Regions from separate parts of the Homo sapiens genome. Here region 1 is linked to region 2. The links come from fine-mapping of genetic effects on gene expression. Tissue or cell type: whole blood. Region 2 holds a variant in brackets; the other region holds the start of a gene. All regions are shown on one strand. Distances are from middle to middle.

Region 1 (2,755 bases), 26 kb before region 2:
AGCCCGCCGGCCCCGGCCCTGCGCCCACCCGTCTACCCTGACCCTCACTCACGACGCGCTCCTTGGTGTGCTCGGGTTCGGTGATGACCACGGCCGCGCCGCCCGCCTTGCCTGCTGTCGCCGGCCGCGCCGCGCGCTTGCCCCCGCCGGGGGCCCCGTCGAGCTCCAGGCCGTCCTCGTCGCCGCTGCTGCCGCCGCCGCTGCTGCTACTGCAGCGCTCGGGCCGCTCGCGCTTCCTGCCCGCCGGGCCGCCGCGTTTCCTGGGCCCGGCGCGGGCAGTGCCGTTGCCCGAGCTCGGCTCCTCCCAGGCCGCCGCCGCCGCCTTCTTCCTGGGCATGGTCGCGGCTGGAGGGAGACACGGGGCAGCGGCGCACAATGGACGGGTTATAAACTGCGCGGGGGGAGGGGAGCGGAGACGAGCCACCCGGCCTCCACTTCCTCCTCTGCCCTCCCCAAAGTGGCGGCCGCAGGGTGGGCGGAGAGGGGGCGAGTTGGGAGAGGAAATCGCGCCCCTCCCTGGCCCCGGCGCGGCTCCTTCGGGGAATCCCGCAGGGCAGCCGGGAGCCCCAGAGGCAATCCCCTGGAGGGAGAATTGAGACCCCCGGCCTATCCGTAAGTTAGGTTTGCCCACAAAGCATCACAGTTGCAACCTCGCCCCCCAAAAGTAAAGGGAAAGTAAAACCAGCCTCCAGTCCCCTAGATTTTCATTAAAGAAGGCTTCGGGACACTTCCAGGATTCCCCCTTGGCACCTGGGTGGTAAGGGAGCCCCTGCTCCCCGGCTACCCCACCTGCTGCTTTTGTCTCCGCAGTCTCCCCCCAAACCCACTCATGGCATTTAATGCAACGCTCTCCCCCACCCCGCATCAGCCCTGGACCCCCGTTCGGCCCCAGCTCAGGGGTGCCGACCTCGGGCTCTAGTTAGCCGAATCCCTACGGCGGACTGCCCCCGGCGACGGGGGAAGAGCCCGAAGAAAGCTGGACCCCAGCCCCAAACACCTGCTCGCACAGACACGAAAAATAAAAACTTTAATGGTGCCCAACTCTCTCCCAGCCCCCTTGCCGGCCGTGCGGCCCGGCCGGTCTCCGATTCGACTGCAAAGTGTCCAGGGCCGCCGCCAGCTCCCCGGCGTCCCTGCGCTCTCCCCTGTCTGCTTTTTTTTTTTTTTTTAATTGATTTTGAACAATGGGATCTCTGTCTGTCTCCGATTAAACCACGTGGATCCGCCTTCCTTCCTCTTTTTATTCCTTCAATCACCCAGCCCCCCTCCCCCAGGTTTTTTTTTAACCTTTTCTCTTTAAAAAAAGGAAAAAAAAAAAAACTTTCCCAGACCCCACAAACTGATCACTGTCGATTTTCAGACCCTACCTGGTTGGAGTGATGAGAAACCGGAGAGAAAAAAGGAAGAGAAGCAACTAAAAGACGGATCGGAGGGCTTTTTTTTTTCCGGCCCAGACGAGGGCTCCAGCCCACTCACCAGATACACTTAAAATGTAAATACGAGCTTCCAGAACAAATGCTACAACACAAAACAGAAACACATGTGCGGCCGCGCGGCAAGCGAGCGCGCGGCGGGGCGGGAGGCGCGGGGCGCGGGGCGCGCGCGCCCCCTGCCGGCCGGCGGACCCGTTGCCGGCGCCCCCGCCCCGCCCGGCCTGGCCCTGCCCTGCCCACCCGAGCCTGCGCCGCGCGCCGCGCGCCTCGCCGCCCGCCTCGGCTCCGCTGCTCCTGCGCCTTTCGCGGGCCCGCGAGCGCGCTTTGGGCCTTCCACGCAGTGCGGCCTGCGCGTCAGGGACTTCTTTGCGGCTTAGGAGGATGTTGGATTGTTTTTCCTGGGCACGTCTAGACAGGTCACATGAGGACACTCGCTGGAAAATAGTTACTTCGCTCACGCAGCAGCCAACAAGGGACGTGCCCTAATTGAGTGATTGGAATGAAAGATGAATACAATTTGAATAATTTTTTCCTGTGCAGAGAGAAGCTGAGTTTTATTTGCCTGTGGATGTGTCCTCAGTATGTAACAAGGTGCTGTGACACGGAAGAATCACATAAAGGTTTGCTGTATTAGTGAATTAATTCATAATTAATTTGAGGGCCGTGGAGGCACTGGAAGCTGGCTTTGAGGGGAACTTTTTCATTTTTTGCCAAATATTTACTGAGCCCCCGGTACATGCAAGACCCACAGTGCCCGGGGCTGCAGAGCCAGTGAACAAGGTTTCCACCCCAGTGGAACGCACAGCCTAACGGAAAGACAGATCAGTAAACAAGTAATTACAACAGTGGTAAGCTTTACAAAGTGATGCCTGTGTAGGAACATTATGGCGAGGGGATTTATCCTAGTCCAGGGCCAGGGAAGGCATTCAGGTGGAAAGTTATGCTGAACAACTTAAAGGATGAATAAGACCCGATGAAAGGGGGCAGGAAAAGTATTCCAGGCCAGGTGGAGTGAACGGGACGCTCCACATTTCGAGATCTTGAGAGACACCTCCTGGGAGGGAAGCTGTCTGGTGGGGCTGGGGTGAGAAGAGCCAAGAGGCTGGGTTCTGAGGAGGTAGGCAGGGGTGCGAGGGCCTGCATAGACCCTAGTGAACCGCAGTGAGGCTTGATCTCGTTCGCGTGTCCTGGGACGGGTGAAAAAAGCCTTGCTTGCTTCCTACCGGTCTCCACCCTCCACCTCTCCACCCCACTTCCATTACGATCTCACCGTCACTTGCTCTCCTCTCAAAGCTTTTCTCCTGCTTCTTTTTTCCTGAGGC
Region 2 (2,755 bases):
GTGAGCCGAGATGATGCCATTGCACTCCAGCCTGGGCAGCAAGAGCAAACCTCCATCTCAGGAAAAAAAAAAAAAAAGATAAATATTGTGGACACCAAAGTTCTTTTGAAGTCTTATAGTGGCTGCTTTTAGAGACAATAAATGGCAAATGTTTCCTATTCAGATCTTAGTTAATCTCTATAGGATTGTGAGGTTCTGGAAGAAAAAGATCTAGCTATGTTAATAGAGATTCTTTACAGATGCAAATTTTCCCTAGCAAGGAACAGCTTTGTAGGGACATTTCAAAATATGACAAAGAAACATGTTTTGGGGTAAAATATTTTGATGTTCTTCCTTGTCTCATAATGTTATGCCAGAGTCAGTCAGGTTGGAAAGTCAGTCACAATACCTAGGGTTAAATAAAACCCATCTGAAGAGAATTTATGATTTGTAGGGCATGGCTCCCCAGACCCCTTAGATAGGAATTTGGGCAAGATAAAAATCAGAGTTTAGGCCGGGCGCGGTGGCTCACGCCTGTAATCCCAGCACTTTGGGAGGCCGAGGCAAGCAGATCACGAGGTCAGGAGATCGAGACCATCCTGGCTAACATGGTGAAACCCCGTCTCTACTAAAAATACAAAAAATTAGCCGGGCGTGGTGGCGGGCACCTGTAATCCCAGCTACTCGGGAGGCTGAAGCAGGAGAATGGTGTGAACCCAGGAGGTGGAGCTTGCAGTGAGCTGAGATTGTGCCACTGCACTCCAGCCTGGGCGACAGAGCCAGACAACGTCTCAAAAAAAACAAAAACAAAAAATCAGAGTTTAGTCCTCATGCCTCACATATGTGCCCAGGAAGTGGGTACTCCTGAAATCCCCGTTTCACAGATGAGGAAACTATGGTGGAGTATGAGAGGCTTGGCCAGGGACAGTATAAGAACAGGCACAGGCCAGGTGCGGTGGCTCACGCCTGTCATCCCAGCACTTTGGGAAGCCAAGGTGGGTGGATCACCCGAGGTCAGGAGTTCAAGACCAGCTTGGCCAACATGGTGAAACCCTGTCTCTACTAAAAATACAAAAATTAGCTGGGGATGGTGGTGTGCACCTGTAATCCCAGCTACTTGGGAGGCTGAGGCAGGAGAATCGCTTGAACCTGGGAGGTGGAGGTTGCAGTGAGCTGAGATCACAACACTGCACTCAAAAATGGGCAACAAGAGAAAACTCCATCTCAAAAAAAAAAAAAAAAGAGAACAGGCACAGGTAGAGATGATTAAATAGCAGTGAGCGCTCGGAATCTTGAGGAAGAGAGAAGGAAGGTGGGTAGGGCGTGTACCCATCTTAGATTCTTTGGCTGGGACCCTATTCATTAGACTAACAAAAGACAGATTGGCAAGAGAAAAATAAACAGAAGTTGATTATGACACTTGTACA[T/C]GGGAGTACTCAGAGGTAAGTGACTCAAGAGGGTGGTTAGAACTGGGGTTTATGTAGCAACTTAACAAAAGAAGAATACATTTTAGTGAAGTGAAAAGACGAAGGGAAAGCACTAGGGCAGCAAATCGTGAGAGGGTCAATATATGGGGGATGAATGGAAGATGGGAGCTAGGAGTGGAGTCGGTTAAGTCTACTCCTCTGGGCCCCAGGAAGTTTAGGGTCTGGAGGTGTCTCTGGGATCAACTTTTGTCCTTCCTGGTGGTTTTTTTTGCGGGGTGGGCACATTTATAAATTTATGTCTTGCTTTTTGGCAGCTACGGGAAGGGCAGAGAGCTTTTCTTCTTCTTTTTTTTTTTTTTTTTTTTGAGACGGAATCTTGCTCTTGTTGCCCAGGCTGGAGTGCAATGGTGCAATCTCAGCTCACTGCAACCTCCACCTCTCGGGTTCAAGCAGTTCGCCTGCCTCAGCCTCCCGAGTAGCTGGGATTACAGACCTGTGCCACCACGCCCGGCACATATTTGTATTTTTAGTAGAGATGGGTTTTCACCATGTTGGCCAGGCGGGTCTCTAACTCCTGACTTCCTGATCCACCCGCCTCGGCCTCCCAAAGTGCTGGGATTACAGGCGTGAGCCACCACACCTGGCCTGTGCCTGTTCTTATACTGTCCCTGGCCAAGCCTCTCATACATCATGAGCCACTGCGCCTGGCCTGCTTTTCTTTCTTTTTCTTTCTTTCTTTCTTTTTTTTTTTTTTTTTGAGATGAGTTTTGCTCTTGTTGCCCACGCTGGAGTGCAATGGTGCTATCTCGGCTCACTGCAACCTTCTCCTCCAGGGTTCAAGCGATTCTCCTACCTCAGCCTCTCGAGTAGCTGGGATTACAGGCACGTGCCACCACGCCCGGCTAATTTTGTATTTTTAGTAGAGACGGGATTACTCCATGTTGGTCAGGCTGGTCTCAAACTCCTGACCTCAGGTGATCCACCCGCCTTGGTCTCCCAAAGTGCTGGGATTACAGGTGGGAGCCACCGACCCTGGCAGAGAGAGCTTTTCTTCTATCTGCTTCTTCTCAGTTGCTTTCAGCTCAACAGGATCCTCATTGCAAAGTGGCATGTTTTGGGCTATTGTATCTGTCAACCTTCAGAGGAATCTGAGAGGCGGGGCCCAGAACAGGTGGGTGGGATTCGGGAGGGAAAGTGGATTTGCTCAGGTACAGGGGTAGGGAGCGCTGTCCCGTCTTCAAGATGTCATCCCCTGCCTTGCTGGAATCTTCCCCACACTGTTCCTGACTCAGGGGCCCAGTCCAGTCTTTTTTTTTTTTTTCTTTGGGACAGAGTCTTGCTCTGTCACT

The links. PIP is the estimated chance that this variant, and not a neighbour inherited with it, causes the effect.
Region 1: RCC2 starts here. The variant in region 2 is fine-mapped to the expression of RCC2 in whole blood (INTERVAL, PIP 0.99).

Annotation. Positions count from the first base shown.
Region 1 is chr1:17,438,178-17,440,932 of GRCh38, forward strand. It overlaps RCC2 (regulator of chromosome condensation 2), which reads right to left and starts at 1,500. Exons shown (of 13, transcript NM_018715.4): 1 at 1,368-1,500; 2 at 53-345. The coding sequence starts at 337. LOC124903862 (a long non-coding RNA gene) reads right to left here. Exons shown (of 2, transcript XR_007065508.1): 2 at 1,959-2,755. RefSeq lists silencers at 181-280, 1,600-1,739.
Region 2 is chr1:17,463,980-17,466,734 of GRCh38, forward strand. No RefSeq gene overlaps it. Among named protein-coding and RNA genes, the nearest start is that of RCC2, 26 kb to the left of the region's middle. The variant T/C (reference allele first, on the strand shown) is at 1,407.